Homo sapiens: one gene and its partners. The protein of the gene in region 1 interacts with the protein of each later gene in a pairwise test. Each region holds a gene or a part of one and is shown in the gene's direction. Other genes may lie near its edges. The genes, in order: BAG3, PTPN21 and PRDM6.

What was found.
Region 2: the proteins of BAG3 (region 1) and PTPN21 interact in binary tests that used the Homo sapiens proteins (3 or more experiments, as listed by UniProt).
Region 3: the proteins of BAG3 (region 1) and PRDM6 interact in binary tests that used the Homo sapiens proteins (3 or more experiments, as listed by UniProt).

Annotation. Positions count from the first base shown.
Region 1 is NC_000010.11:119,675,355-119,678,521, forward strand, and holds the end of BAG3 (BAG family molecular chaperone regulator 3), read left to right. Parts: intron 1-1,109; coding exon 1,110-1,928; 3' UTR 1,929-2,465; downstream 2,466-3,167. UniProt on the Homo sapiens protein: Co-chaperone and adapter protein that connects different classes of molecular chaperones including heat shock proteins 70 (HSP70s), e.g. HSPA1A/HSP70 or HSPA8/HSC70, and small heat shock proteins (sHSPs), e.g. HSPB8.
Region 2 is NC_000014.9:88,552,681-88,556,507, reverse strand, and holds the start of PTPN21 (tyrosine-protein phosphatase non-receptor type 21), read left to right. Parts: upstream 1-1,812; 5' UTR 1,813-1,857; intron 1,858-3,827. Other genes in the region: proline-rich protein 2-like, read left to right, coding at 1,448-1,812.
Region 3 is NC_000005.10:123,087,016-123,090,615, forward strand, and holds the start of PRDM6 (putative histone-lysine N-methyltransferase PRDM6), read left to right. Parts: upstream 1-2,225; 5' UTR 2,226-2,504; intron 2,505-2,984; 5' UTR 2,985-2,999; coding exon 3,000-3,591; intron 3,592-3,600. UniProt on the Homo sapiens protein: Putative histone methyltransferase that acts as a transcriptional repressor of smooth muscle gene expression.

The DNA of each region.
Region 1 (3,167 bases):
ATGGCTGTAGTTTATAGTCACAGGAAAACCTGTGCAGCCAGAGGTTAGCACAGAGGCGCTGTGTCATTGCTGAATGTTAGGCTACAGCACAGCTATCCTGAAGCAAAATTGTTCTGGAGTTAACCATTTAGAGCATCTTGGCTAATCCTAAAAAAATACATTGGTCTGGGCAGAAACTACTAGGCTGTCACGGTTTTAAAAAAAGAAGATCGTATCTTTTCTAAAACAGGAGACAAGAAGATCACACCGTGAGCAGACTGTCTGCACAGTGTAAGGAAGAAGGACCAGAGGCAGCGACTCCAAGGCTGCAACACCTGAGAGCTGGAGTCACTCAGGACTCTGCTCTGAGTCAGCCTAGTTCAGCAGTCAGCATGAGTTTTTGCTATTTTTTTCCTTCTTTCCTTCCTTCCTTCCCTCCTTCCCTCCCCCTCCCTTCCCCCCTTCCCCTTCCCCCCTTCCCTGCTTCCTTCCCCCTTCCCCCTTCCCTCCTTCCTTCCTGCCCCCTTCCCCCTTGCCCCCTTCTCCCCTTCCTTCCTTCCTTCCTTCCCCCCTTCCTTCCTTCCTTCCTCCCTCCCTCCCTTCCTTCTTTGAGACAGGATCTCGCTCTGTCACTCAGGCTGGAGTGCAATGACATAATCGTGGCTCACTACAGCCTTGAATTCCTGGGCTCAAGCGATTCTTCCGCCTCAGCCTTCTGAGTAGCTGGGACTACGAGTGCAAGCTCCCACACCTGGCTAATTTTTAAAGATTTTTTGTAGGGTTGGGGTCTTACTATATTGCCCAGGTTAGCTATTTTCATTTTTGAAAATTTTATTGGGTTTCTTTTCATTGCCATTAAGAATACCATCTACAGAGAAATTCAGTGAGAGGTAATAGACAAATAGCCTGGGGTGATCAATGGAAGCCTGACTAATGATTGGGTTACATACATGATTAATACCATGTTTTTATTTTGTAACAGCCATTGATTGACTTTGAAAATCTTTTATACTATTAAACTTTTTTTAAAAAGCCATTTCTCAGTTTTCTTTCTAATCTGTACTAGCTACAAACAATTTCTGTGACTTTCAGTCAGTTATTAAAAATATATTTTTGTGTCCTTTTTTCAGCAGCCCATGACCCATCGAGAAACTGCACCTGTTTCCCAGCCTGAAAACAAACCAGAAAGTAAGCCAGGCCCAGTTGGACCAGAACTCCCTCCTGGACACATCCCAATTCAAGTGATCCGCAAAGAGGTGGATTCTAAACCTGTTTCCCAGAAGCCCCCACCTCCCTCTGAGAAGGTAGAGGTGAAAGTTCCCCCTGCTCCAGTTCCTTGTCCTCCTCCCAGCCCTGGCCCTTCTGCTGTCCCCTCTTCCCCCAAGAGTGTGGCTACAGAAGAGAGGGCAGCCCCCAGCACTGCCCCTGCAGAAGCTACACCTCCAAAACCAGGAGAAGCCGAGGCTCCCCCAAAACATCCAGGAGTGCTGAAAGTGGAAGCCATCCTGGAGAAGGTACAGGGGCTGGAGCAGGCTGTAGACAACTTTGAAGGCAAGAAGACTGACAAAAAGTACCTGATGATCGAAGAGTATTTGACCAAAGAGCTGCTGGCCCTGGATTCAGTGGACCCCGAGGGACGAGCCGATGTGCGTCAGGCCAGGAGAGACGGTGTCAGGAAGGTTCAGACCATCTTGGAAAAACTTGAACAGAAAGCCATTGATGTCCCAGGTCAAGTCCAGGTCTATGAACTCCAGCCCAGCAACCTTGAAGCAGATCAGCCACTGCAGGCAATCATGGAGATGGGTGCCGTGGCAGCAGACAAGGGCAAGAAAAATGCTGGAAATGCAGAAGATCCCCACACAGAAACCCAGCAGCCAGAAGCCACAGCAGCAGCGACTTCAAACCCCAGCAGCATGACAGACACCCCTGGTAACCCAGCAGCACCGTAGCCTCTGCCCTGTAAAAATCAGACTCGGAACCGATGTGTGCTTTAGGGAATTTTAAGTTGCATGCATTTCAGAGACTTTAAGTCAGTTGGTTTTTATTAGCTGCTTGGTATGCAGTAACTTGGGTGGAGGCAAAACACTAATAAAAGGGCTAAAAAGGAAAATGATGCTTTTCTTCTATATTCTTACTCTGTACAAATAAAGAAGTTGCTTGTTGTTTGAGAAGTTTAACCCCGTTGCTTGTTGTTCTGCAGCCCTGTCTACTTGGGCACCCCCACCACCTGTTAGCTGTGGTTGTGCACTGTCTTTTGTAGCTCTGGACTGGAGGGGTAGATGGGGAGTCAATTACCCATCACATAAATATGAAACATTTATCAGAAATGTTGCCATTTTAATGAGATGATTTTCTTCATCTCATAATTAAAATACCTGACTTTAGAGAGAGTAAAATGTGCCAGGAGCCATAGGAATATCTGTATGTTGGATGACTTTAATGCTACATTTTAAAAAAAGAAAATAAAGTAATAATATAACTCAAAATGGTTTTTGTGGTTTCTAAATCTTTGAAAGCAGTGGCATCATGGAGATTGTCTGTCCCTGGTTTCAGTCAGAATAAATGACAGGTGCATTTAACAAGCCTGCTTTGGGTTTTGTGACGTCTCCAATAGCCCGGCTCAAGAGAGAATTGTCTTGGTCACCTTTCAGTCTCAGATTGCAACAGGAACCTGGGAAGACTCAGGGCTGTGAACTCCGGTAATGGGAACATGCCTGCTGCATCCGTTCGGACCGACCCAGCCAACAGCCAAGGTGCCAGTTAGGTAGCATGTCTGCCCACCTGTCCTCAGGCCTCACCAAGAAGCTGAGATTGTCCAAAAGTGCCCAGAGGGCCTGGCGCAATGGCTCACACCTGTTATCCCAGCACTTTGGGAGGCCAAGGCAGGAGGATCCCTTGAGGCCAGGAGTTTGAGACCAGCCTGGGCAACATAGCAAGACCCTGTCTCTACAAAAAACAAATCAGCCAGGTGGTGGCATGCGTCTTCAGTCCCAAGCTACCAGGGATGCTGAGACGTGAAGATAGTTTAAGTCCAAGAGATGAGGCTGCCGTGAGCTGTGATCCCGCCACTGCACTCCAACCTGGGCAACAGAGTTGAGACCCTGTCTCTAAAAATTAAAAAAGGAAGCGCACAGGGAAGCCAGCTCCCACTATTGCCCAAGGCTGGCCAAAGTGTTCCTTGGAGTCTA
Region 2 (3,827 bases), on another chromosome or scaffold:
AGGAAATAAGAGAGAACTGAGAAACCAGATGCCAGGAGACCACCCTTGTTGCAATAATCCGGATGTAAAATGATGAGGGTTTGGATTTAGAATGTTCCAGGGGGAACAGAAAGGAAACAAAGAATTCATGAGACATTTCAAAGGAGGAAATACCAGGTCTTGATGACAGGCTGGAGATGATAATGGGAGAAGTCACACATGATTCCAGTTTTTCTACCTTGGGAAGCCAGCAAAGTGACTTCTTTTTAGATCTCTTTTCTTTGCTCACACACAAATTGACCCCCTCATAGAGTTCAGTTGAAATATCAATTACAAACAGAATTGATCTATTTTTTTTCCCTTAGAAACACAGGTAATCTTATTTGCCTTTAGCTAAACGACCCAAGATGCACCTTGCTGGGCTTTGCTCTTGGATAGCACTCATACCTCTATGACAATGCTCCCCACTTTGGCCTTGTACTGCGTGTGTGGTGTGCAGGTGCGTTTATCACCCACTAAACCAAAAGTCCGTGTTGTGCAGGGACCACGTCTCATGCAGAGTTAAGTATTCAAAAGTTTTTGTTAATTGTTTAAGAAAATGAGATTTACATGAAACAATACTTTAAAAAGCTTTCCAGAAACAACAGCATTAAAACAAAATCACTGAAATTAAAATTTACATAAATTAAAAGGTTCTGTGTTCCACATGCCAAGAAAAGATCTTACACTATTGTAATAGTGGTAGGGTCACACAGTTTTATTCCTCAGCTTAAGTGCTGCAATACAGTAATAATGCAGTACAAGAATACTGTATAATAAACCTTAAACGAAACACTTCATATATACTTTACACAAGTTATTGGATATTGCTTAGTATTTATTTCCCCCACCCCTGCTGTGCAAAGATATTAATATCCCTCTTTTATAGGAGAGGAAACAGGTAAAGAGAAGTTAAGAAACTTGCACAAGGTCATCCAGCTAGTAAATGTTGGAGCTGGGATTTGACAACTTTGTCAAGTCTCCATCCTTAACAGTTCTGCTCTATATTGCATAAGCAGACAGCTCCCTTTTGGGGACTGACAGGTTATTTGAGGCATATGAACCATTTTTGGTGGGGGGGCTTTCCCACCCAGTACTGGAAGTGTCTAGTTATATGGGGCATAACCTTAGGAGCAAGCAGGAAAAGAAGAAATGTATTCCAATAGTGTTCAGAAATATACCAGAGTAAACGAATAACCATCAATAACAGCATTTTACAGCCTACCTAATAACACAGGAATAAAACCCTTTATCTGGAACCTAAATAATACCCCCTCCACTCATTTTATTAAAAGCCTTGCTTTATTTGGAAACTCTTAAAATAAGTGGTCATACGATTAAAAAAAGCAGCGGCGCGCCCCCTCCCCGGCGGCCGGGCGCAGCTGTCCGCGCCTCCCCCGCGCGGCTGCCCGCATTCCAACTCTCTGAGGTCACGGGCCGCCGCCGCCTCCCCGGATCCGCCCGCCCGGCTCAGGGGGAGGGACGCCTGGGCCCGGCCGCCCCGCTGCTCCGGCCGCGCGTCCCGCGTCGGTCCGACGGTCTGTCCGTCCTCCTGCCACCCCCCGCCCCCACGGGGCTTCTTTGTGCGGCGCTCCTCGCCGGCCGGTCCCACCTCCAGGCCTCGCCCCTCGCCGTCGCCACCGCCGGACTCTGCCCAGGGGAATGGTCTGCGAGCCGGGTTTTTGGAGACAGGAAGTGAGGCGTGCGAGCCCCATGAGCGCGCCGCGGCCCGGGCTGGCGTGCGGGTGCGGCTGCGGCGGCCGCGCGGCGGGGCCCCGGGAGGCGGGTCGCTGAGCGGGGCGCGCGGCCCCGAGGATGCGGGAGCGGGAGCGGGAGCAGGTGAGGGCGCGGTCCCCGGCCGGCGGGAGGGGCGGGCGGCTGGCCCGAGCGGTGGGGTGTGTCCACTCGCCCGGACCCCGGAGCGCGCCCGCGGCCCCGGAATCCCGGAGAATGGGGCGCGGCGGCCAGACCCGTAGCGGGAGCGTAACAAAGAGAAAAGTCTTGTTTTTCAGGTTCGCTCTCATATACTTGAGTAATTTCTAAAAGGAGTCTTGAACTTCTATTCCGAACGCCCTGGCCGATTGTTGCGGGTTAATTCTGGATCAGGGTTTTAAATGTGTTAGGCATATTTGTGCCTCTCAGAATATATAAACGTGAAATTCGCCAGATAACTTTGGCGAGAAGGGGCGCAGGGAAGGACTGTTTGGTAACGCCTGGGTTTGTTTTTGGAGTAGAGTATTTACTCTGGAAACAAGAATTCTTGGATCTGCAAATTCCGACTTGTGATTTCTGCAAATCCTGATTAGATTGGCCGCTCTTGGCATGCTCGTCCTATTTTCTTTTTTGCTGAGAAAGCCTTATACTAATAGCGTATGCTCACAAACACATTCAGAACATTCGTGTGCTCCAAGTGACAACTGCTGTATGCCTAATAGTTGCTGACAGTTTATTTATTTTTTTAAGTTTGGGACACGACAGTAATTTTACTCTGAATATAGTCCGTTTCGTTTCTAGGGCATTTTATTCTGGAGCATCTACGCACAGATGTTTTCTCCGTGAGAAACATGGGTTTAATGCTATAGCTATAGATATTACTCTAAAAATGTCACATACTCTCTCCTTTTAGTGCTTATTTTATTTTAAAGCAACTTTGGCAAAATTACATGTGGTAAGGACCTTAATAGGAAAGGGGAAACGCTGTAAGATTGAGAGGTAAAGTGTATTTGAGGAACTTTTGGAAAGGGTTGTAGAGAGGGAAAATTAAAATGAATTCACAAATAGTTCAGACTGCCTTTTGTAAACTTGTACTGAAGCAGAATCTAGTATGTATCTGTTTACTTACCACAAAACGGAAAGATTTTGTAGAGAAAAAATTATATCCTAGTTTTCCTTTAATAGCTATTTATAAATTATGTTTACTTTAGTAAATTATAATTCCAGACCCAATCACTTTCATATTATTGCATATTATTTTATACCTGAAACAGACCTCCCCAAAGAACTCTTAAATTTCTACTCATCTTGGTTTTATTATCTTCAGACATTCATAATTGTATTACACCATTTGGCAACAAATACTGCATATTACTGAAAATTAAGATGTATAAATCATTGATAAATTTGTAAATTATTAAACAAAATCATTGTTTTAACATAGTGGGTTTTATATAAATAAGCAAAAAGCAAGCCATTCTTATGGATAGATCTTGGGGGGATGCACCATGTACACACACACTGCAACTTTTTCAATTTCATCTACCAAAATAAGAGATAATTTTGACTTTTCCTTTATCCCTGATGCAGTAATACATTTCAAGTCTGAGGGACAATTGAAAGTTTTACTGAGTTTGCTTAATCAGAGCTTAAGTTAATAATTAAGTTATACAGTGTAGTATCTATTGCTTTCAAGGCATAGTTCTATGTAGTGAAAAGACTACCATATTTGAATGGCACCTAATACAAATATTTATCTTTCCTCTACACATATGCAATATCTTGTCTGTTCATCTACACTACTTAATCCGCCCGGTTTCCAGTTACCATAATTTTTATGTAAAATTGAAACCCACCATCTGATCTCATGAAAGGGTGTTTAGTATGCATATTTATAATCCTTAAATATTTACTCTTGGTTTATCAATTTTCTAGTTAAAAGCTTATTATTTAAAGTTGTCATTTGCTAATTTTTTTCCATCTTGCTTTACTTATTTAGTTTATACCCCTGAAACAGCAAAGAGCATTGAAAACTACTGGAAGTGGAAACCATATCTTTTAATACTTATTTTCTGTTTCCCTCCATAGTATGGTGC
Region 3 (3,600 bases), on another chromosome or scaffold:
GGTAGGCAGAAGATGCACTTGGCACCTTACCGAACGGTATTTGAATCCGTCTCCATTACTCATTAATGGCGTGACCTTAGGCAACCCATCTAAACTTTCCGAACCTCAGCGGTCCCCATCTACAATATGGGGGTTAATGATAATGCCTTCTCCGCATGTAGGTGGATTAAATGGACATAAAGCGCCTACCCCCGCCCGGCACGTCCAAAACTCTCATTAACAGGTCAGCTAATCTTATTACGAGAGGAACCCTCCCTCCTCCGCTTCCCAGAGTGTGGGCGGCATGAGGCCACGGAAGCAGCTGCTGCAACTAGCATTTCAAAATCCAGAGACTTTCTAATGGTGGCAGGGGGTGAAAGGGTAGGGGGGAGGCAGGGTTGGGACAGGTAGAGGTAGGTTCTTGGGGACTTCCAGTCTTGGGGACCAAGCGCTTGGAACTAGCTGGGTTTGGGCAGAAACAAGAAGGCAAATGACGGGACCGCCGCCGGAGTCCGGACTTCCATCCCTGGAGTTCACTGTCTCTCCCAGGGAACAGAGGAGTGTCCTGGTTTCTCAGCAATGAACCAGGAGAGTGTGAGAAAGAGCATTTGTTTCTTCTCCCGTGGCCCGACAAGCCACTCTTCGGCAGTTCTGCGAGCAGATTAATTGAAACGGGCCTGGAACTTCATCCTCTCCTCCCGATGGAGTTGCTGGAGGTCTGCGGACACTGCCTGGTTAGCCTCCGGGACCACAGCGCCGTGGGCTTTCCCTCGTGGTGTCTGCCTTAAACTTGGGTGCTATCAATCTATCCAACAATGACGGATGACCTTGTCATAACGACGCCAGTCAAAACATTTTCGGTCTAACTCTCTTCCAACCAACATCGAAGCATCCTGAATGAGACCCGGATGAAGTCTGAACAGCACGTTTCCCAGGTTCAGAAAACTTGAGTGGTGGGAAGAGAAAAAGAAACAAGCAGAAATCAGGAAAGAATGGCTATTAATTGCTCAGATTGGCAAGTGCTAAATAAGTTAGGTTGTTTGGAAAAAGATAAATGCCGTTTCTTCTCTTTACGGTATGGCCAGAACCCCGGCGATGGGAAAGTACCTCCTGAGTCGGTCAATTTCACACACCCTGCCTGTGCCCTCTACCATCTACTACCGAAAATGCCAGGAAGAGCTGGGGGGCAAGTGCCTCCTTCGTGGGTGCGAGACTGCATCGAAGGGCTGCCCTGGCACAAAGTCTGGGGAGAGGACATGGTGGAGGTGGGGCTGCACTCCCACCCTGCCCCTCTAACACCAGGTTTTGGGTAGAGAAACCTATGCGTGACCTCCTGCGGCAGCCGCAGGCAGCTGACCGCAAACAGCCTCGCCCGTGTCCCGGAGCAGTTGTGCCACCAGACGTAACACTGGATACTTGTCTCCGGGCCCCAAGAAGGAGAGGGAAAGAGCCCTCCAGAAGACAACCCGAGAAGGGGTCAGCAGAGCGCTGGGTGGAGTGCAGACTCCATTGCAGCCGCCTCCCAGCCCCACGGCCAAGCTTGAGTCCCTCCAGGACCAGCTGCTCTCGGTCTCAGGACCCTCGGTCCTACGCCTCCCTGCACCGACAAGCCTCCCTCCTGGGCTGCAGACAGAGGGTTTCACTGCAGCGCGCAACCCGTCCCGCTCCGCCCCCAACTTTTCTCCCCGGAGGATTTATGTTAGAGGTTGCGTGGCGGGCGAGTGGACTCTGGCACCCAGAAGCACTTCAGGAAAAACTGAGCCGGGCAAAAGCGCAAACCCGGTCCTGGCGGCGCGGGCTTGCTCCAGCGCGGACACCACAGCGTGTGCGGAGATGCATTCCCGTTGCCGCATTTCCACTGCTTTCAAGATCAGGGCACTGAGCTGGGACCCAGAAAAGACATATCATGGGCAGAAAGAGACAACAGGCTAGCGGCAGACGTCACGCCAAAAAAACAGGGGATGGGAGGGCGGAGGAGTTTGTGCGGGAAAGGCGCTCTGGCGATGTGGGTCGGGCCGAATTAGAACTTCCTTCTTCCCTCTCCCCTCCCCTTCTTCTGGCCTGCCTCCCCTCCCCCCTCCGTTCTCTCTCTCTCTCTCTCTCTCTCTCTCTCTCTCTCTCTCTCTCTCTCTCACACACACACACACACACACACACACACACACACACACACACACACACACACACACACACACACTCACTCTATTTTGTGCTGTCGTAAAACCCACGTGTCCAGCCGGGAAGCTGCCAGAGCGTGGAACCAAGGAGCCAGGACGCGGCAGCGGCCAAGCGCAGCAGCCCACGGCGGTTGAGTCGGGCGCCCAGGTCCGTCCGCACTCTCGCGCCCTCCGCGGGCCTCCCAATTTTCTCGCTTGCAGGTCGGGAGGTTTCCGGGCGGCACAATCTCTAGGACTCTCCTCCCGCGCTGCTCAGGGGCATGTAGCGCACGCAGGGCGCACACTCTCGCGCACCCGCACGCTCACCGAGACACCCGCACGCACCCACCGGCAGCACCGAGTTTTCAGGTAAGGTGAGGCTGGTCTGGGACTTAAGAGTCTAGGGCTTGGTAGATAGGAAGGTTGGTGGTCCTAGGTTGGGGGCGGGCGGCGAGACTGTTCTGCCTCCTGGCGCCTGAGGCCAACGCGGCTCGGGCGCTGCGCCACGCCGGCTCGGGTCGGCTCCGGGCGCTGGCTGAGGGCGGGGGCTGCGTCCTGCAGCCGAGTTCTACGGGGCAGCGCCCTCCTGTCGGGCCCCAGCATTGCTGGATGGGAGCTGGACGCTGCGATCGGGGAGGCAGAGCAGGGTGCACACAGCTCCCTCTGTGCGGCGCCGCAGCTTCGGAGTAAACTTTGCGCCCAAGCGGAGTTGGGAAGAGGGAGCCGCGGAACCGGGCGGCCGCCGGCTGAACCACCGGCTCGGGCACTTTCTCCAGGGTCCCAGTGGCCCTCTTCCCGGCCCCTTTCGCCCAGCTCACGCGCCCCCTCTTCCCTGCCCTCTGCCCCCAGTTCGAGGCGCCGGACATGCTGAAGCCCGGAGACCCCGGCGGTTCGGCCTTCCTCAAAGTGGACCCAGCCTACCTGCAGCACTGGCAGCAACTCTTCCCTCACGGAGGCGCAGGCCCGCTCAAGGGCAGCGGCGCCGCGGGTCTCCTGAGCGCGCCGCAGCCTCTTCAGCCGCCGCCGCCGCCCCCGCCCCCGGAGCGCGCTGAGCCTCCGCCGGACAGCCTGCGCCCGCGGCCCGCCTCTCTCTCCTCCGCCTCGTCCACGCCGGCTTCCTCTTCCACCTCCGCCTCCTCCGCCTCCTCCTGCGCTGCTGCGGCCGCTGCCGCCGCGCTGGCTGGTCTCTCGGCCCTGCCGGTGTCGCAGCTGCCGGTGTTCGCGCCTCTAGCCGCCGCTGCCGTCGCCGCCGAGCCGCTGCCCCCCAAGGAACTGTGCCTCGGCGCCACCTCCGGCCCCGGGCCCGTCAAGTGCGGTGGTGGTGGCGGCGGCGGCGGGGAGGGTCGCGGCGCCCCGCGCTTCCGCTGCAGCGCAGAGGAGCTGGACTATTACCTGTATGGCCAGCAGCGCATGGAGATCATCCCGCTCAACCAGCACACCAGCGACCCCAACAACCGTACGTAGC